3 linked regions of the Homo sapiens genome follow. The protein of the gene in region 1 interacts with the protein of each later gene in a pairwise test. Each region holds a gene or a part of one and is shown on either strand. Other genes may lie near its edges.

Evidence for each region. Proteins that work in one complex are often made in the same cells at the same time.
Region 2: the proteins of TNPO3 (region 1) and NME1 interact in binary tests that used the Homo sapiens proteins (3 or more experiments, as listed by UniProt).
Region 3: the proteins of TNPO3 (region 1) and PPP1R1C interact in binary tests that used the Homo sapiens proteins (3 or more experiments, as listed by UniProt).

What each region holds. Positions count from the first base shown.
Region 1 is NC_000007.14:129,051,784-129,059,925, reverse strand, and holds the start of TNPO3 (transportin-3), read left to right. Parts: upstream 1-4,814; 5' UTR 4,815-5,155; coding exon 5,156-5,275; intron 5,276-8,142. UniProt on the Homo sapiens protein: Importin, which transports target proteins into the nucleus. Specifically mediates the nuclear import of splicing factor serine/arginine (SR) proteins, such as RBM4, SFRS1 and SFRS2, by recognizing phosphorylated SR domains.
Region 2 is NC_000017.11:51,156,252-51,162,668, forward strand, and holds the end of NME1 (nucleoside diphosphate kinase A), read left to right. Parts: intron 1-3,728; coding exon 3,729-3,830; intron 3,831-4,908; coding exon 4,909-5,021; intron 5,022-5,476; coding exon 5,477-5,594; 3' UTR 5,595-5,917; downstream 5,918-6,417. Other genes in the region: NME1-NME2 protein, read left to right, coding at 3,729-3,830, 4,909-5,021. UniProt on the Homo sapiens protein: Major role in the synthesis of nucleoside triphosphates other than ATP. The ATP gamma phosphate is transferred to the NDP beta phosphate via a ping-pong mechanism, using a phosphorylated active-site intermediate.
Region 3 is NC_000002.12:181,981,107-181,988,852, reverse strand, and holds the start of PPP1R1C (protein phosphatase 1 regulatory subunit 1C), read right to left. Parts: upstream 3,001-7,746; 5' UTR 2,743-3,000; coding exon 2,662-2,742; intron 1,036-2,661; coding exon of another isoform or gene 1,015-1,035; coding exon 954-1,014; intron 1-953. UniProt on the Homo sapiens protein: May increase cell susceptibility to TNF-induced apoptosis.

The DNA.
Region 1 (8,142 bases):
CCACACATGCTACAGCCTGCTGGTCTTGGCTGTCTGTTAAGTGCCTCAATATTCAACATGGCTAAGATTAAACTTATCTTCATCCTCATATCCCTTTCTGTTTCCATAAAAGCCATTTCTTCCTTTAGGTTCCATATCTCAAAAGCCTGGGTTTTCTTCCCTCTTGTCACACCTTGCAGCTTAAGTAATCACCATATCAAGATTCTTCCTCTGAAGTTCCTAAATACCTCTCTATCTCCATGCCCACCGCCAACACTTTACTCCAGGCTACCATCACTCCTCACCACGATTATTACAATCTTTTCTTATTTCTGTTCTAGCCACCTTCCCTGCCCAAGCCATTTCATGTCAAACTAGACTTTTTTTTTTTTTAAGACTAAGGAACAAAGAAACATGTCACTTAAGACATTTGCTAAGCACCCACTATGTATCAGGTAATGGCATGAGGTCACAAAGATGGGTTAAACACTGTTTAGCTTCATTTCTTACTCCTACCCAATGTCAACTCTATCCTTCAGCTACTTTCAGTCTTCAGAAGGTAATTTTTTCCCTTGCCTCCAGGCTTTCATACTGTTGCCTCTGCCTACAATACTAAACCCTTTGCCTAATTGCTTCCTATTTATCTATCAGTCTGGTCTCAGTTTAGACATAATTTCTCCAGATGGTGTTACCAATCTCTCTACTCTGGGTTAGGTATCACCTCTATTTTTTTTTCTTTTTTCTCCAACTGTTAGCTAAATATCCATGTGGTGTTTTAATAATTCCTAACCATAGAACTTTTAAAAATAAGTTTTATTGAAATATAGTTCACATTGCCATAAAACTCATCCTTTTAAAACATATAAAAAACATATGCCAGTGGTTTTTAATATATTCATGAGGTTTTTCTGAACATCGTCAATAATTCCAGAGCATTTATTTCCATCAATACAAAAAAAAACAAAACCCAAAACAAAAAACCAACCCTGGAAATGACCAATCTACTGTCTATATTTAGAATTTTGCCTACTCTGAACATTTTATGTAAATAGAATCGCGTAATTAATGTGCCTTTTGTGTCTGGCCACTTTCACTTAGCATAATTTTTCAAGTTTATCTATATTGTAGCATCTATCTGTACTTCATTCCTTTTAAGGGTCAAATAACCTTTCATTGTATGGATATAGCACACTTTGTTTATCCATGCATCAAATGACGGATATTGGGGCTGTTTCTGCCGTCTATTATGAATAATGCTGCTATGAATATGCACGTGCAAGTGCTTGTATGCACACACGTTATCATTTCTCTTGAGTATATACCTAAGTGTAGAACTGCTGGTTCATATGATAATTCTATGTTTAACATTTTTTTGAAGAGCTGCCAAACTTTTTCAACATGGCCGCACCATGATACAATCCCATGAATAGTGCATGAGAGTTCTGATTTGTCCACATTCTCACCAGCATTTATCATTTTTTAAATTTTAGTTTTTCTAGTGGGTGTGAAGTTGTATCTCATTGCAGTTTTGATTTGTATTTCCCTGAGGGCTAATGATGAGCATCTTTTCATGTGCATTTGTATATCTTCTTGGAAGAAATGTCTATTCAAATTCACTGCCCATTTAAAAAACTGAATTATCTGAGGCCAGACATGGTGGCTTACGCCTGTAATTCCAGCACTTTGAAAGGCTGAGGCGGGTGGATCACTTGAGGTCAGGAGTTCGAGACCAACCTGGCCAACGTGGTGAAGCCCTGTTTCTACTAAAAATACAAAAATCAGCCAGGCATGGTTGTGGGCACCTGTAATCCCAACTACGTGGGAGGATGAGGTACAAGAATCGCTTGAACCCAGGAGGTGGAGGTTTCAGTGAGCTGAGATTGTGCCATTGTACTCTAGCCTGGGCAACAGAGCAAGACTCCAACTCAAAACAAAAAAACAAAACACACACACACACACACACACACACAAAACAAACCCAAAAACTGAGTTGTCTTTTCATTGTTGAATTGTAAGAGTTCTTTATATACTCTGGATACTAATCAGTTATCAGATATGTTATTTGCACATTCCCTTCCATGTTGTGGACTGTTACTTCACTTTCTTGATAGTGTCCTTTGATACACACAAAAAAATTTGTTTTGAGATATGGTCTCACTGTTTCCCAGGCTGGAGTGCAGTGGCACAATCTCTGCTCACTGCAACCCCCACCTCCTGGGCTAAAGCAATACTCCCACCTCAGCCTCCTGAGTAGCTGGGATTAGAAGCACCCACCACCATGCCCTGCTAATTTTTTTGCATTTTTTTTTGTAGAGATGGAGTCTCATTTCATTACCCAGGATGGTCTTGAACTCCTGGCCTCAAAGGTAATCCTCTTGCCTCGGCCTCCCAAAATGCCGGGATTACACAGTTGTGAGCCACCAAGCCCAGCACTAAATTTTTTTTTAATGAATGAATGGATTAGGTAACCAAAATATCAAGTTTCTTTTTTCTGTCTAAAATTGTATCAACTCTGTGCAGTAACATTGTTTTCATCATGTTGTTGGCAGTTAAAAATTCCTTGACTAACAATTCAGAAGCAAACGAATGCACAAGATGATAGGGATTGTGTGATTTAACAGGTTTTGGAGCAACACTGATCTGGATTCAAATCCTAACTTTAAGAACTGTATCCTTGGGCAAATTACATTACTATTTTTCTTTCTTTAAAATGCGTTTTTTTGTTTGTTTTTTAAGTGCCAGGGGTTTATTTCCCTCACATGTGGGATGGCTCACATACACAACACACAAAGGCGTTGGCACCGTGGGAGAGGGCAGCACCCCTGGCTTCTGCTTGGCCTCACAGTGTAAGAAGGGAGAGGATGGGTTCTCTCTCCTCCCCTCACTAGGGCCTAGGGGACCCAGGAGCAAATTCCATCCCTTTCACCTCTCAGCCAAGGAGAAGCCACATTGGTGACATTTAGTTCCAACAATTACAGTAAGTGGAGAAGGGATTGGTCTGGTCCCGACCATTACACGGTGAAGGTATACATAGTAAAGGAAGATACAGTTTGGATGAGGCCACAATAGGGTGCAGATGACACCATCAGAAGCATGTGCAGGGGAGGGGCAGTCACTCAGCTTCTGGGCTGCTTAGTTCCTGGGTTGGCAGGAAGGGTAGGGAAGACGGATGGGGCTCATTGTTTGGCATTGATGATGTCTACGAATTCGGGCTTGAGGGAAACACCACTCATGAGGAAGGCAGCCACGTCAGGCTGGCTGGCCAGCTCCTTGCAGGTTGCCTTGGTCACAGAGCCTCCATAAATGATACCAGTGCTCTGAGCCACTGCATCAGAGATGTTGGACTTAAGCCATCCTCGGAGCTTCTTGTGTACCTCCTGGGCCTGTTGGGGTGTTGCAGTCTTGCCAGTACCAGTGGCCCACACGGGATCATAGGCCAAGATGACCTTGCTCCAGTCCTTCACATTATCTGCGATGACCTTTGTCTGCTCAAAAACAACCTTCTCAGTGATGCCAGCTTCCCTTTCATCTAGCTTCTCCCCAATGCAGGCGATTACTCCGAGTCTCTCTGCCAGAGCATGGGCCACTTTTCTGCCCAATCAGCTCATCTGACTCCCCAAAGACACGCCTTCTGAGTGCCCCAGGACCACACCACCCACGTGACTCCTAAGTCTTTGACCATGCCAGGGCTGATCTCCCCAGTAAAGGCCCCATTAGTCACTTTGTAGCAGTTCTGCGGAGCCACAGCAATCTTGGGAGCTAGCTTCTGCCGGGCCAACTCGTTATACGCAGTGGCGAGAGCACAAATCACCTTGGTGTCGGCAGGCACAGTGGCCGCGTTCTGAGTGCCGATGAGCTCCCCCAGACATTTCTTCCGCCCGTTCATCTTCCAGTTCCTCCCCACGAAGAACTTCCTGGAGGGCGCCATGGCGCTGGAGCTGAGGCGCTGTAGGTCAGTGTCAGCGCCTAAAACGGGTTTTATTAATACTTGGCAAGGTTGTTAGGCGGATTAAATGAGATCTTGTAACTACAGTGTTTTACACATTGTGATCATTTATCAAATAGCAGTTATTTACTAGTGCAAAGGACTAGCAGCAATGTTAATATCAATATACTGTTACCTTTTGTCCCTAATTTCTCCATAGTACAGTTTCCAATATTTCTGTTTTCTTTTGTGAATTGTTAGACCACTGGTATTGGATTCGGACAGAAAGGCATTCACAAAAATACAGTTCAATGTGAGAATAACCCTAAAGATGTATGCAAAATGCTCTGGAGTTAGAGCACCAGGAGCTGTAAGCAGAATGAAGACCTCTTTTGGGCTTAAGAACTAAGTAAAGGGGAGCTGAACAAAGATTCTAGGCATTTTGGATTTATCTCAATGTGGCACATATTTCAGGTTTGTAAAATAGTTCAGTTGACTACGTGTCTGTCTCCTCCACTAGAGCCAGCGTAGGTACCATGTCTTAAGTCATCTTTGGATCTCCAGTACTGTGGCCACTCTAGGGAGAGTTGAATTGACGCGCCTTGATCACCAGGGCAGAAAAGGATTCTCTGGAGAGGGATGGGGCAGTCGGAAGGGGTAGGAAAAACCTGGATCCGTTTCCAAGGAGCTGAAGGCAGCTCAGATATGGGGCACATCTCGGCGCTAATGTCCCAAGCTGCTAGCGAGGAACAGAGAGAACACCGGCTCTTCTTCCCGGCTCCTGGCCCGGCAGGGTTACTTCCGGGAGGGGGCGGGGAGACAAGAGGAGGCGTGCCGGGAAGGAGGCCGTTTGTAGTGTACCAGGCGGAAGTGTGCCAAAGGTATCGGTGCTGTCGCTTCCGGTCCGGGTAAACGAACCTTAGGTACACTGGTGTGTGGCCTCCCAAGATAGGCTTCTGAGGGCAAGTCAGCGACTGAAGACGGGAGCGCCAGAATCTGTGGACTCAAGAGTCTAGAATCAAGTGGAAAAACCGGAAAAAAGGCCAGGAACCTGAATACGACCTAATAGCTGTTTCCGAGGGGGCAACTTCCACGGAGAGCCTTCTGCCCTGGTAACGGCCAAAGAGGAGGAGATGGCGCCAGTCAGGGAGCGGCCGTGGCCCAGACAGTGAGGAAGCGCGAAGGCGGAGCAACCGAGGAATCCTCCGGAGAAGAATCAGAGCCGTCGCTACCGCCACTACCGCCACCACCATGGAAGGAGCAAAGCCGACATTGCAGCTCGTGTACCAGGCAGTGCAGGCGCTTTACCACGACCCAGATCCCAGCGGAAAGGAGCGCGCCTCTTTTTGGCTTGGGGAGCTGCAGCGTTCGGTGAGGGGCCCAGAGAGGCAGTTCTGTGCCGCACGGCCGGGGCGGGGTGGAACCTAGGCTCCGGGGGAGAACCTGAGCCCGGCAGTTGACCTCGTGAGGTCCTCCTTGGGGAGGAGCTGCTGTCGTGGGGTGGGGCTGCGAAGCTACATCTTTGCCGCTTTTGGGAAACTAGTCGCACCTGATCGGTCGCGAACTGGCCCTTTCCCCACCCGGCAGAATCTGATTTGTAGGTCTTATACTCTTCGATTGTGGCATCAATCTAATCTTGTTTAAGTTCTCCCTTTGCCGTTGCTTCTTGGGCCGTGCTTTTCCGTTTTGTCTTCCTCCCACCAAATCCAACCCCAGTGTTTCTCCACCTTCCGCTTAAGAAGGCTTTATTCGTCTCCCCTCCGTGTCCAAGACTTGCATCTGGCATTTTGCTCCCAGTCGTAGCCTTATGCCTCACTCTTTTTGCCTATTTTCACTCCAGTTTGAGTCTGTTCTTCTCGAAACTTCTCAGGTTTCTAGATTCTTACTCATGCGAGTTTTCCCCTTGCTTTGGAGTGGCAACATAATATGAAGAAAAAACAGTAATTCTGCTTTCAGAAAATCTTTGGAGTTCTCATTTTGTTTCATATTAATCCTCTAACCTTGTTATTTCTCTGGCTTTTAGATTTTTATTTATAAGATGGGTATCACTGCTGCTTTGATTATTCCATATAAAACTGTGTGTGCATCCGGTGAGATATTTAATTGTAGCTTATATCTGTTGTATTTCTGCATTCTTTGATTCATGTTTTATGCTTCCTGCCCTAATTTTCACACCTTTGCTGTGCTTCATTTCTGTGTAAATGTGTATTCTTGGTTATCTGGCTGACTTAGGTTCTAATGTAGGATGTACTTTAAAAATTAAGTACTTTGAAAACTAAAGAGGCTTTTTTTACAGGCTGACAAAATACTCACCTTTACCTTTATTTTTGCATTTTATACTCACAACCATATTTTTTTTGGCCCCCTTCCCTTTATTTTAACTCATAACTGATACTTAAAGGTGCTCTGCCTTATTAAATCAGCTCCTAGGCTGCAAGTGCATAATATTTAAAAATTTGCAACTTTGACTTTTTAAAAATCTGGTCTTGGTATGGAGCAACTTTGCCTTTTTTTTTTTTTTTTTTTTGAGACAGAGTCTCGCTTTGTCGCCCAGGCTGGAGTGCAGTGGTCCCATCTCAGCTCACTGCAACCTCCTCCTCCCGGGTTCAAGAGATTCTCCTGCCTCAGCCTCCCGAGTAGCTGGGATTACAGGTGCCTGCCCTGACACCCGACTAATTTTTTTTTTTTTTTCTTGAGACAGAGTCTGGCTCTGTTGCCCAGGCTGGAGGAGTGCAGTGGTGCTATCTCGGCACACTGCAACCTCCTCCTCCCAGGTTCAAGTGATTCTCCTGTCTCAGCCTCCTGAGTAGCTGGGATTACAGGCACACGCCACCACACCCAGCTAATTTTTGTATTTTTTAGTAGAAACGGGGTTTCGCCATGTTGGCCAGGCTGGTCTCTAACTCCGACCTCAGGTGATCCGCCCGCCTCGGCCTCCCAAAGTGCTGGGATTATAGATGTGAGCCATCGCCCCCCGCTGCAACTTTGACTTTGAATATTAAACCTAAAAAACTGGCACCCAAGTCCTCTTCAGAAAATAAAGGAATACGACTCACTGTAGGCTACACAAGAAAATCATTCACATATGGTCTCATTTAGTGTTTCTGTGATCTCTGGAGAGTCAACAATTCCCTGATCTTTGTATAGTTTTCTAAAGTGTAATTAGGAGAAGTGCTACACTATACTAAAAAAGTAATCTCTTTCTAATTAAACCTGCTTGTTGTGTGTATTTTAAATCAATATTTGAGTGCTTACCATGTGCCAGCAACTATGCTGGGTGTTTGGATTTGGAAATGAACCAGACAAAAATCTCTGCTTACCACAGAAGGTAGTTGTGATTAAATGAGTTAATATTCTACGAAGAGGTTAGAAAAGTTCTTGGAACATAGAGATTAAAATGTTAGCAATTGTTATTTAAGTATTAGTCACTTTTCTCTCCTTACTTTCCAATACTCTATTACAACCTTACATCATCTTCACCATCACAGTTAATAGTCAGAGTCCAGACAGGAACAGATGGCACACTTGACAGGATAATCTGAGTTTATTTTATAAAGATACTATTATAAAGATTTAGGTATAGTGGTGTGACAAGAAATAGTTTGGTAACCTATAGCTGAACGGTTAACATCCCATAAAAGAGGGAATAGTTACTTGAAAAGTATGGAGTTGGCTGCCTTGAGAGGAATGGTGACTTTCAGCCGAAGGGACATAGCTAGTTTCAGGTGACCTTGAGAGAATGAAGCTGGAGGAATGAATATCCTGACCCTGTTCTCTTAATTTCTTGCTGGGATTCCCCATTGGCCAAACCCAACCGGAAGCCAGGGGCACAGTGACCTGTTGGTAAAGTCTATACAGGTCAGCCTATTGGAGCAGAAAACATGATAGAGGAGGGTGGAAAAGTGGATCTGGAAAATATCCAGCAGTAACACATCACGTTTAGGCAACTTCAGCATCTGGATTGACAGTTCAGCTAACACTTTGGCCTTCTGATTCCTTTACCTCTTCATTCTCTTTAGCCACCTGGTCACACAATCACACCCTGGATCTTGTCTTTACTAAAAAGCCACCACCCAGGCTGGGCGTGCAGTGGCTCACGCCTGTAATCCCAACACTTTGGGAGGCTGAGGCGGGCGGATCGCTTGAGGTCAGGGGTTTGAGACCAGCCTGGCCAACATGGTGAAAACCCGTTTCTACTAAAAATACAAAAATTAGCTGGGCGTGGTGGTGCGCACCTG
Region 2 (6,417 bases), on another chromosome or scaffold:
ATGGTTTTGGTTTTGGGGAGGTTCTTCAGAAACAGCAGAGAGCAGATGTACCTGCAAGCTACTTACAAAGCAATCTTTTGATAAATGCAAAGGATTGATTGACCAATAACCCTTCTTCAAACAAATTCTAGAGATAATCCAAATTCTCGGCTGGGTGAGGCATAGTGGCTCATACCTGTAATCCCAGCACTTTGGGAAGCCAAGGCAGGCTGGTCACTTGAGGTCAGGAGTTCAAGACCAGCCTGGCCAACATTGTGAAACCCCGTCTCTACTAAAAATACAAAAATTAGCTGGGCATCAGGGTGGGTGCCTGTAATCCCAGCTATTCGGCAGGCTGAGACATAAGAATTGCTTGAACCAGCCAGGTGCGGTGGCTCATACCTGTAATCCTAGCATTTTGGGAGGCTGAGGCGGGCGGATCACCTGAGGTCAGGAGTTCGAGACAGCCTGACCAATATGATGAAACCCCGTCTCTACTAAAAATACAAAAATTAGCCAGGCGTGGTGGCATGCGCCTGTAATCCCAGCTACTCGGGAGGCTGAGACAGGAGAATCGCTTGAACTGGGGAGGTGGAGGTTGCAGTGACCGAGATCGCATCATTGCACTCCAGCCTGTGCAACAAGAGCAAAACTCCATCTCCAAAAAAAAAAAAAAAAAAGAATTGCTTTTGAACCCAGGAGGCGGAGGTTTCAGTGAGCCGATATTGCACCACACTGCAGCCTGGGCAACAGAGGGAGGGAGACTCTGTCTCAAAAAAAAAAAAAGAATTCCAATTCTCAAATCAAATAGGGGATAGTATGTTTTCTAAAAGGGAATCAATTTTGGACCCTTCTAGTGCATTTTAAAATTTAGTTTGACTTGCAATTTACTTCCTATGTGATATTTTAGAAAAACTGCTTTAGGGCTGGCACAGTGACTCGCCTGTCATCCCAGCACTTTGGGAGGCTCCGTCTCCAAAAAAAAAGAAAAAAAAGAAAAGAAAAACTGCTTTAATGTAAAAGAGGGTAGACTGATGTTCATGCTGAGAGGAGAATATGGTGTCCAAGGTCAAGGAGCTGGCATCTAATGAAGGTTTTCTTGCTGTATCATCCCATGACAGAATGGAATAGCAAGAGAGTGCAAGAGTGAGAGAGAGCAAGAGGGGGCTGATGTTGATTTTATAACAAACCCACTCCTGAGATAAGACATTAATCTGTTCATGAGGGTGAAGCCCTCATGACCTAAACACCTCCCATTAGGCCTCACCTCCCAACATTGTTGCATCGAGGATTAAATTTCCAACATACGAACTTTGGGGGACACATTCAGATCACAGCAGAAGGTAACATGAGATGGATGTGTTGTTGATCAGGCATTTACCATATGCTGGGCACATATGTTTTCTGATTTAGTCTTCATGCCAGCCTTGAGAAGTACTTACTCCTGTTCTCGTGGTTGTTAGTGATGAGCAACCTAAGGCTTGGAGAGGTTCAGTGATGTGCCTGATAGCATACAGTGATGCCACTGGAATTTTAACTTGAGTCTCTCTGACCCCTGAGTGCAGATACTTTCTCCTTTACATTGAATTTCCTATTAAGGATATATGGGTTTGGTGAAGAATGGACGGAAGGATAGCTGCCATGACTCTAAAGGGGCATTTAAATCTGGTGTGGAGGCAGGAAGCAAGGGAGAACTTGAGGTTCCCAACCCCCAAGCCCTTAAAAAAAGCCCGTGATCTGTTTTGCAGACTAAAGATAATCAGTTAGGGCCTGGCGTGGTGGCTCACACCTGTAATCCCAGCATTTTGGGAGGTCAAGGTGGGTGGATCATCTGAGGTCAGGAGATGGAGACCAGCCTGGCCAACGTGGTGAAACCCCGTCTCTACTAAAAATACAAAATTTAGCTGGGTGTGATGGCGCATGCCTGTAGTCCCAGCTACCAGGGAGGCTGAGGCGAGAGGATGGCTTGAACTCGGGAGGTGGAGGTTGCAGTGAGCGGAGATCGAGCCACTGCACTCCAGCCTGGGTAACAGAGCAAGACCCTGTCTCAAAAAAAGATAATTAGCCGGGTGTAGTGGTGCACACCTGTAGTCCTAGCTACTGAGAATCTGAGGCAAGAGGATTGCTTGAGCCTGGGAGTTTGAGGCCGCAGTGAGCTATGATCATGCCATTGCACTCCAGCCTGGGTGACAGAAAGACCCTGTCTCAAAACAAACAACAAAACCAACAAAAAGATAATTGGAACCAATTAATAGAATTAAAAAAGTATTCTGATAAGGGAAGGTCACCTCAGGGTCTGTTAGACTTCCACAACAAAAGTCTTCCATTTGGATAGGAAAGGACAGGGCGAGGGTTGGATCCCTACCACGGAGTGATTATATGGCCATGTAATTTTACTTTGGCAAGTGATGATAACTGGTGGCTGAATGATGGGGCTTCTGGGCAGCCAGTCTCCACATCTGTGTGTGTCTCTGATGTGTGTGATATGCGTCATACAGTGCAGTACCACAGAGCTGGAAAAACCATGGGACCCTGTTAGATTTTAACAAGCGTATATGCAGTACAAGAGAGAACACAGCCAAACTGAGTTGAAACTGCTAAGCAGATGGTTTGTTCTCTAGCTAACTTGATTCGTTCCCACATATTAGCCTTGCAGTATGAGAGGTTCTAATTCATTTTTCAGCAAAATTATTTATTACTAGATGTCATGCACTTTTGGGTGATTTGCAGATACCTTTGGTAATCACATGGTCATCACTGCTGGGCTTTTATCCTCTGAATAAACGTGAAGCATCCCTGGGTAATGGCCTGGTTTAGTTTGCTGCTCATTAAATGCCAAGACTTGCTTCCTGGTGTCCTTCTAACATTTTATTTGGGGTTTGCTCTGGGAATGGAAATTTATTGTATTGTTGATTTTCCTGTCTAAAATGAGATAGTTGAGGGCCAGGCATGGTGGGTCACGCCTGTAAGCCCAGCACTTTGGGAGGCGGAGGCTGGAGGATCACTTGAGTCCAGGAGTTTGAGACCAGCCTGGGCAACATAGTGAGACCCTATCTCTACAAATAATTTTTTAAAATTAGCCAGGTATGGCTGGGCGCGGTGGCTTACGCCCGTAGTCCCGGCCCTTTGGGAGGCCAAGGCAGGCAGATCACCTGCGGTCACCTGAGACCAGCCTGGCCAACATGGCGAAACCCTGTTTCTACTAAAAATACAAAAATTGGCCAGGCATGATGGCCGCCACCTGTAATCCCAGCTACTTGGGAGGCTGAGGCAGGAGAATCACTTGAACCCAGGAGGTGGAGGTTGCAGTAAGTCAGGATCACGCCACTGCACTCCAGCCTGGGTGACAGAGGGAGACTCTGTCTCAAAATAAATAAATAAATAAATAAAATTAGCCAAGTCTGGTAGTGTGTGTCTACAGTCCTACCTACTCGGGAGTCTGAGGCAGGAGGATCACTTGAGCCCAGGAGTTTGATTTTTTTTTAAATGAGATAGCTGGATTTAATTTTAATGTTCTGTGGTTTTATTATCAGTCAGTGCCAATAGGGAGACAACTGATATAAAATTGGAGAAGTACATTTAGTCCTGTCACTGCTCCCTTCCAGTGTGGAGAATGAATTGGGTTATAACAGAATCAGTGAGCCCAACCGCTCATGTTTTACATAGCAGGGTGGATGAGGGGAAATTAAATGGATTATATGTCCTTAGATGGTTTGGGGGTTATTCTCATTCTCTGTCCTGTTGAATAGGCTTCCGAAGATCTTCTCAAGGAACACTACGTTGACCTGAAGGACCGTCCATTCTTTGCCGGCCTGGTGAAATACATGCACTCAGGGCCGGTAGTTGCCATGGTGAGTGTGCCTGTGTGGGATACTCCAAGTATGCATTGCTTGTCATCTGTGCTAGGCTCTCTTCTAGACACTGGGGATACAGCCATGAATGAGACCAAATAGATACCTGTTTTCATATACCAGCTAATGGTTAGTGATAGGCTTCAGAAATGAAATATGCCCAGAAATGAATAGGAGTAGCAAATGATCACTTTAGATTGGGTGATCAAAGAACGCAATTTTTAAGCTGTGATCTGAATGACAAGAAGCAGCGATCTGAATGACAAGAAGCAGCCAGCCATGTACAGAATCACAGTGAAAAACATTTCCAGCCAAGCAAACAGCATGTGCAAAGGTCCCAGGGTGGGAATGAGCTTGGCTTTTTGAAGTACGGGAGGAGAGTTGAAATGCCCGAAGCCTGATGGGTGGGAGGGAAGTTGGGAGGTGAAGAGTTCAGAGGCATGGGCAGGGGCCTTCTCTCTTAGGGGTGTGTTGACCATATACTTCCTGAGTGCTGGGAAGCTATGGGACACTTCACACTTGGCATTTCTTTTTTTTTTTTTTTTTGAGACGGAGTCTTGCTCTGTTGCCCAGGCTGGAGTGCAGTGGTGCCATCTCGTCTCACCGCAAGCTCCACCTCCCGGGTTCACGCCATTCTCCTGCCTTAGCCTCCTGAGTAGCTGGGACTACAGGCGCCCGCCACCACGCCCAGCTAATCTTTTCGTATTTTTAGTAGAGACAGGGTTTCACCATGTTAGCCAGGATGGTCTCGATCTCCTGACCTCGTGATCCACTCCCCTCAGCCTCCCAAAGGGCTGGGATTACAGGCGTGAGCCACTGCGCCCTGCCCACACTTGGCATTTTAAGGAGGCTGCTCTGGTTGCTGTATGGAGAATACATTGTAGAAAGGCAAGCATGAGGGCAGGGAGATCAGGATCCTCAGTGCTGGAATAAGTGGATATACTCTATAAACATTTGTTCAGTGAATGAATATAATCTTAAGGGGCCTTTTTATTTTTCCTTTTTTGAATTAATAGTTGCCAGATTTTCTGCTGTGATTGGTTTTCTTCTTTGACCATATCTTCTTCTGTCCTTGGAGGTCTGGGAGGGGCTGAATGTGGTGAAGACGGGCCGAGTCATGCTCGGGGAGACCAACCCTGCAGACTCCAAGCCTGGGACCATCCGTGGAGACTTCTGCATACAAGTTGGCAGGTGAGATTTTGGTATTTTTCCCCCTTTTCCAAAATCTGATTTAGTTGCCACAAGGATTTGGGTTTCCGAGGCTGGAGGTAGACATGATACCATATGCAGGTTGATTTTATCGGAGTTTATTGTTTTCCTCCCTCTTAAGTTGGCGTTTGGCTTTGGTTGTTAACATCACTTAGTCGTACCTCTGTTACACGAAGTGTAGAACCTGGTACAACACACTTTGCTGGCCAGTCTTTCCTGAAGGCTCTCACTGTTTGCACCAGCGTGGCCGGGAGGGCTGGATGTGGGGAGGGCATTTTTCAGCCTTAAGTGAATGGCCATTGTAGGCTTTTTCTTTTAACATGGTCTAATGTCCATGGAGCTTCAGCTTTTATGCTGCTGTGGCTGTAGATTTCTGGCAATGGGCGCATTTTAATCCTTCTGGTCTTGGTCATGTGACTATCTCTTTCTCCACCCAGGAACATTATACATGGCAGTGATTCTGTGGAGAGTGCAGAGAAGGAGATCGGCTTGTGGTTTCACCCTGAGGAACTGGTAGATTACACGAGCTGTGCTCAGAACTGGATCTATGAATGACAGGAGGGCAGACCACATTGCTTTTCACATCCATTTCCCCTCCTTCCCATGGGCAGAGGACCAGGCTGTAGGAAATCTAGTTATTTACAGGAACTTCATCATAATTTGGAGGGAAGCTCTTGGAGCTGTGAGTTCTCCCTGTACAGTGTTACCATCCCCGACCATCTGATTAAAATGCTTCCTCCCAGCATAGGATTCATTGAGTTGGTTACTTCATATTGTTGCATTGCTTTTTTTTCCTTCTTTTCATGTACACTGAATAACCTGACCTAATAGAGAGTGTAAATACTATAAAAATGATTTATTTTGAGGTCTCACATACACACAGGCATTCTTTGCCTGCCCTTCTTAACCCCCGCATCCCTTCCACTCTTGGCACTGAGCTATTCAACAGGCATCTATGGAGCATGTGCTACGTGGCCAAGACTGGACTAGGTGCAGAGGATTCATCAGAAATGAAAGAAAACATGAGGGCTGGGTGTGCTGGCTTGTGCTTGTGATACCAGCTACTTGGGAGGCTGAGATGGGAGACCAGCCTGGGTAACATAGCAAGACCCTGTCTCACTAAAAAAAAAAAAAGAAAAATTAGGCTGGGTACGATGGCTCATGCCTTTAATCCCAGCTATTCAGGAGGCTGAGGAGGAGAATCGCTAGAGGCCAGAAGTTCAAGTCCAGGGTGGGCAACATAGCAAGACGCTGTCTTTACAAAAAAAAAAAAAAAAAATTAGCTCTGGTGCTGTGCACCTCTAGTCCTAGCTATTGGGAAGGCATAGGCAGGAGGATTGTGCCCAGGAGTCCAAGGCTGCAGTGAACCATGATCATG
Region 3 (7,746 bases), on another chromosome or scaffold:
TCTTGGATTTGGGCTAAATGATGAATAGCCTATTAGTTTACGTTCTTTTTATATGTTTCTCTAATTAGAAAAGAGTCTGAAAAAGTCAAGGACTATTTCACCCTGGTATTCTTAGATCACTCGCTACAGTCTATTATTAGACATATTATGTTTCCACTGTTTAAACTCCTTTTGTCCACCCATTATTGTTTATACCTGCAAAAAAATCCAACACCAAGTTCTGCCTGGTTGCAAATTAATGTCATGACCTTTCCTATCCTACTTGTATATCCAGAAGCAGCACTTAAATGTGAGACTAAAAATCACCCCGCTTCAATAAGTAAATAATGTTTGTGGATTACAGATCATAGTCTTTTATCCGGAATAATAATGCGGTTTTCATTTTTACAGGAAATGGAAAATAAAACCTCAACAAATGGATTCAGCCATTCAGAATGGCTCTCAAATAGGCAGTGCTGAAAATTGATCTGGTTACTTGTCAATTGCATTATTCAGAGATGACGTCATCAGCAAAGCTGAAGCCAACGCTGGGTCATTGCCCACCCCATGTCAACCTTTTCCATATAAAAAACTTACTCTGTAAAGATATAAGCATCTCTAGGGCTGTAATTTGAGCTTTTAAACCTAATTAAACAGCTTTCCACCAGCCTCATTAATAAGCAGTAATCCAGGTTCCATACAAACACCTGAACATATGACAGCCAGTGCTAGCAAAATATTTCATAGCATATCATCACTTATGATATTCTAGAGGAAATACAGGCTGTGGCTTGAGATTATTCCTGTAATATTTATTTCTGATTCTGTTTACGATCCATTTTATAGATTAGCTTTCTAGAGTATTGCTAACTGTGAAATCCTAAATTGAAACTTTTCAGTACGACATGTACTTTGATGTTCTTTAAACAATTCCATTCTGTTCCATCAGTGTGAAACACATCATGCTTCTTTACCTGGGGGGTTATGCTCATTGAGAATCACAAGTGATGCTGGTGTAGGTCTTCTTTTCCTGATCTGTGAACGACAAAAGCCCAGCTAATATCAGTGAGTATTAGACACTGCTCCAGGTTACTCTGCAGCTTGCAAAGCTGTCTCACCCTCATCTTTTCCCCACATGCAAAAGCAAATTTCTGGAGGACACATGGAAGGTGCTCACTAATTTTATTTTGAAATAATAGAAAGCCACAGAATTGAACTGTCTGATAGAAGTATCACCCTCTTTGACCAAAAAGCTACATTTCCACGGAAAAGAAATAATTATATACAACTGAATGATACAACAGAAAATTAATTTACAATGAAGGTACAGGGTTGACCTGATAATGTTAGTGGCTTGCTTGGAGCCTCATAACATTGGTGGTGCTTTCAAGATTCATTACCCTTATTTTTAAACAGGATAAGGAAGAGCTTGGAAACCTATTTCTAGCAGGTACCAGAGTTAAATCAACAGCATAAGCTTTGAATTTCAATTAATTTTGTTAACTTTTTTATTTTCTAGTATAATATTTAGAACAAATAAACAAATGAAGAATAAATATGGATCTTATGAGAATATGCAACTTATTACAAACTCTAAAGTTTTTTTTTTTCATTTTAAGAGTTACAGGAGCATAGTATTGTCAGAATCCCTTGAATATAATATCCTTTATTTGTTTATTATATTCATTTATGGGTAAATACCCAAAGTAAGTGTCAGTAGGATAGATAATAAAATTTATCAATGACATCCTGTCCAAGATAGAAGCAACATCCCATTCAGCATGGATAGACACATGTTCAAGGATACATTTATCTGGCCTGAGTCTAGGTGCATCTACCTCAGATTTCAAAACATCCTGAAACACTATGAGTCACGGATTAAATAATTATTTTTAAGACTTTATATCAAATACTTGGAAAAGGATTCAAGAATAATTTAAGTTTTAAGAAATGAATGGATTAGGTTGATGTCCTCATAAATTTCTTTGCTTTTGCCTCCTCACAGTTGCAGTTCTAAGAGATGCCATTGCATCAAGAATCTAAGTAAATCTGAATATGAAAGGTGATACAGATGTAAACCAATATTAGACATGGACAAAGAATCTAGGAAATGTTAAAACACTGTTTGTAATGTCTGAACAAAACGATTTTAAAACTGTACAAAAAGCTACAAATCCTAGCTGTAATATATTATATAAACTTATAATCATTGTTTTGTGTCCACAATAATAAAACATATGAAAATAAAGTATTAGGCCTATAGTCTCAAACTATTGCAGGATTTAATGATTTTATTGCTAAATCAATCATTTTATTTTATAAAAAATGAAATAAAATGTTGCTCATTTTGATAATTTTTAAAAGTTGCTCTAAATGTTGAAACTGTTATTTTAATGAGCAAAAATGAACAGATTTATGAATCCATATCTGAATTGCTTACAGAGCCATTTTCCCCTCAGAGGTGCTAATTTTGTATCAAATGAAGTGTTACATTTTAGACAATAGTTCTCCCAATGCAATTTAAATACAAGTATGTGTAAAAACCAACTTATTTCTTGTTTACATTATCTTGAAAGTCAGAGTTAGCAAAATCAAAAGGTAAAGAACCTTTCAATTAATAACCAGAATGCATGTTCATATTACCTTATGTACAGGAATGGTTCTCCATGCAATTTCACATACCTGCTCTGCTGCTTCAGGTGCAATCTGACTCTGGAATACAGGCACGGCAAACTGTATCTTTTTGGGACTGTTGGGCTCCATGGTAATGATGATAATTAGTCAGAGATGTGAAGAGCTCAGAAAGACTAACCCTAAGTGGTGTCCGGGATGTGTTTCCTCAGACACACTCCACTAAGCCACACAGAGTGCTTCGTAATAAATAGCTGTAATTCCAGATCGAGCAAGTGAAGATGCCGAGGTTTGAGTAACCCCCTTCTTCAACATCCACGGTGATGCCTGGCTTGCCTGTTCCCCCACCAATCCCTTGGATCCTCTCAGCACAATACAGAAAGGAACAATACGCTAATTGTGTGCCTCTTCACTAATACACATGCCAAGCATTCACTCAGCAGCTAATTGAAAATGCAATGCTAGCCTTGAAGGACCCACTGCCCTGGGATTTGAAAGAAAGGCTCTATCCACTGTACATTACTAACCGGCTGCTCAAAAGTGCAATGTAAGCTCCCTCTGAGTATTGCAGGGATGGGCCATTCATTATTGATGAACATCAAGCAGGAAGTTTTTAGAGTTGGGGGCAGGGTTTAGGTATGGAATCATTTCTCTCAGCAACTTATAAGTCAGATACCTTTGCTATTTCACATTCAGCCACGAAACAGTTGAATGGCCATGGAGGGTAAGCCACAACCAATAATATCAGCTATGTTTATGCTATAAGATCTGGTTAGTTTAAACTCATCCTAGGAGGCAGAGCATCTGTGGTGTAGTGAGGGCAGCATTACTGCAGGGCTGAGCAGATCTTAGTTCGAGTTCCATCTTCATAATTAACAAGCTCTGTGGCCTCCAGAAAATTACTGGCTACGTCTAGGCCTCCACACTTCCATCAGAAAAATGAGGGGATTGGACTCAATGACCTTTAAAGTCCCATCCTGTTCCAACATTCTAAAATTGCAGTTCACAGTTTTCATTAGAGTGGAAAGTATTGTGCTGCTAAATTTAGCAAACAGCTTGGAAGTCACTGCTGCTTCAATGACCTCTATTTTATTTCCTGGTGGAGCCAGTTACATTCTCTGACTTGGAAGAATATGACTGGAAAACATTAGTAGAAACCTAATGGTAGTCAACATTATGGCTTGTTGTCAACAGTAGAAATGTATGTAAAGATAAGGACTTGAAAAAAGCATGAAGTGGGTAATGTTCAGAGGGTTGATATTGGCTAGTGGTCAGGGAACAGTGGGACACTAGCCTGATTGCCACATTAGTTAATGTTAAAGGGGAGGTAGTAACATAGCCAGATGGCCTTCATGCATTCGAATACTTTTATGAAGGAAGTGTGAAAATGAAACTGCTTGAGATCTCTGCTTTCTTGAGAGGCATTATGTGATGAATACTAGATTTGTAAATATGTTTTTGGATGTACTTAATATATTTAGACATCGACTATGATTCCAGGTATTTACAATTGAAGTTTTTATTTTTTAAATTTTGATTCTGTACTAGGAATCCATCTTAATGATTTAAATAGGCAACATTCTGTTGAAGGAATATAGAAAGGAATATGCATTATTGAAGTAGTTTTCTATATTCACTAGGGGAAAAAGCAAAGATGTGGATGTGAAAGCACTTTTAGTGGAGAACAGTGCTGACTAGCAAGAAATCTTGTGATGAGTTTATCCGTGTAGTGTCGAAGGGAAATTTATAAATTACATTTTATGTAACAGTTTACAAAAGTCTCCAGAAATAAAATCTAAATTGATATCATTAATGAAGTTATTTCTTTGAATATATCTTCAAATTATATAAAAGGAAAGCAAGACAAGACAGTATTTTTAGTGAGGAGTTAATACAAAACTTCACATAATGTAATAATTAAGAACATGCACTTGGCAACCTTGAGTTCAAGCTCTAGCTCTGCTACTTACCAAGTTTATCAGTTTGGGCAGTAGGAGAACTTTCTTCTTGTGAGGTTTAGATTACTCAATTCCTGAAAAGAGCTCATTACAAGGCCAGCACGGAATCACTCAATAAAAGATAGCTATTATTTTTCTTTCAGCCAGATTTTTCAAAAGGCTTCAACATACACATTTTCAACCAGAATCACTAAGAATATCTATCTACTTGGAATAATTTGATTCCACTTAGAATAATAGGTGATAAAGTGAAATTTCATATATGTGTTTGGTATAAATACCAATAAAATGGTTCTCATTAACTAATTGCCCTATTTTGAATAGGTTGATCAGAGACAATATTGTAAATGGGCTATCTAGACCCTTTAAGCTTCTTGTTTTTTATGAGGCCAACTCCTGTGTGTCCATTAAGATTCAGTTAAGTATCATTGCTTCTAGGAAGCCTTTGTAGATTTACTGTTCTCCACATTGGGTTTAAACTCACCTCTCTGTATTCTTAAAGAATGAAGCATAACTCTATTTATCATAATAACTACCTACATGTCTTTTGAATGTTTAGTATTTTGCAACTTTATTTATTCACATAGCAAATATTTGTTGAGTAGATACTATAGTCTACTCCACACCAGGCCTTTTGCTATGGCACTAGAGGAGAGATTGTGTTAAAAGGTATTTGAAGTCCTTTTAAAGCTAAATTCTTACTTGAAGAACTACTTAAAATGCAACTTAAATGTAAAATAATCTAAAAAATGTTAATATAGAGTTTGCATGGGGGGTATAATTTTCCTAAATATTAAGTGCACATTTTTTTATCCCTATTAGAGACAAGAGTAATAATTAACCCTTATATGATACCATGTGCCAGGAATTATTCTAAGTGCTTTATCTGCATTAATTTATTCCGACAACTGTTTGAGGTAGATATTATTGCTATCCTCAATTTAAAATTAGGTAATCGGGAGTCAGAGAGTTTAGATAATTTGTCCGGGGTCATCCAGCTAATATATGGCAAAGCCCAGTTTCAAACCCGGGCAATTTTGCATAGGGCTTGGGCTTTTAATCACAACAGCATCATGATGGCCACTATAATATAAGGCCAGTAGAGAAGTCAGTGGCAGTCAACAGAATCTCCGCAGTGGTTAGAGGTTCTGACCACATCAATTCCATGGTAAAAGATCTTAAGATGACGTGGTATATGAATGAAAGAGAAGCAAGTAGCATGACTAGGATACTATTAATCAAGATACTCAATCATTGCAAATTAGATATCAATATAGAAAGGAGAGCCTAAAGTTGGATGTTGTACCACCAAACTGACTGAAAAAGGAATCCTCTCCGTTGCTCTTTAAAAGTAATGGGTTCAATCATTAAAGATTAAAAAGGCCTCTAGAACAAGCAACAACTATAGTCTCTCTTCAAAGTAAGTGATACTGGAGTAAAGATGGAAAAACATTAGGAAAATAGGCCATTAGGCCTTCCTGATTTTACACTATAATATCTATCTTGCCCTACTTTGCATGATTCCTCAAGACCCTCCTACAGGCTGCCGCAGTTCACCTTACCACCAGTCTTTCTGTGGCCTCCCCTACCTCCCTGGAAGCCATCCTGCCTCCCCGCTCCCTTTTTTAACCCAAATTATATTCATTCTCTAATTCCACCTCCTTAGAAAGAGACCTTCAGATTCTCCACACAAGAAGAATCACTCAATTTGTTCCCTCTCCTGGTATTTAATTATATATAGTTTTATGTTATTCTATAATAATTTCCTATGTGTTTCTTTTGCCTCTTCTCCTAGACTGCAAATCCCATCCTATCTTAAACATAAACATAACAAGCAAGATGCTCGTCATCTAGTAGTTACTAAATAAGTCCAATTAGGCTTTATCTAATACTATCAAGAAACGTAAGGTGTTCCAATAAACTGAATTTTCCAAAAGACTATGGCTCACCCTTTCAAGCCCTACACCTTGCTGTTAGTATTTCTTGCTATAGTAACTGCCTCCAAATACCATAGATACATAGTTCTTATGACTGTTTTTAGAGTTATTTTTCTTTATCTGATAACTGTCAATACTTGTTTTTTAATTGTTACCTGATATTAACAAGTGCTTTCTTTGAGGGAAGAGAAGGGAAAGAAAGGGGAAGAGAGGAGAGGGGTGGAGAGGGAAAAGCAAATTTTTAAACTTTTTAATGTATTTTCTATTCCAGGCTTTGTTTTAAATATCTTGAATTCATGAATCTTGAAAGTTATGCAGATATATGAGACGTGACTTTGTTTAACAATTGGTTGGCTAACTAAATGCCATCAAAAATAAAAGCAAATATGTATTACACATGACTACATTAAATGCTGGAAATACAATAATGAACAAAAGCAGAAAAAATACAATATCATCTAGATATGAGTCCATTGAAAAGATTTCTAGCCCTAATGCAATGATTTTCTGTCTCTTCTATTTAAAACCCAAATGCTGGCAGTCACATTTCAGATGCACTCCCTTGTATGTCCTCCTTCAATTCTAGTTGTAACTTCATTCATTTCCTCCATCAAAGAAAACAGATGCATGGGAGAGTGACAATATTATTGGGCTTTCATAGAATTATCTCAATTATATTCAATGTAACCTGTTGGAGAACTCCAAAACCTTCATATTAATATTAAATTATTACTGAACCATTGATACCTAATTGAGGCAAAGAGGCCTATCTATAAAATGTGGTCGAATCCCAGTAATATAAGTGAAATGAACCACTCTTTCCAAGTGCTCATTTAAATTAAATTTCCCCCATGGAAATTATTAGCCATATTTTAACTCTTTCAGAATGTCCTATAAGTTCAACCATGCAATTTTAAATATGATATTTTTTCAGATCTACAGCTATAAGAAGCCTTACCAGACTAAGCTCACTATATTGCAATCTCATATTAAAATCTGAATTCCCACAGCACTTAAGTATAAAATACTTGCAATCTCTATCAGGCTTAAAGGCAAACATCAATGATTCATTCATTCCACATTTATTTAGTGCCTACTGTGTTCTTTAAAACTTCTCCTTGGCCGGGCACGGTGGCTCACGCCTGTAATCCCAGCACTTTGGGAGGCCGAGGCGGGCGGATCACGAGGTCAGGAGATCGAGACCATCCCGGCTAAAACGGTGAAACCCCGTCTCTACTAAA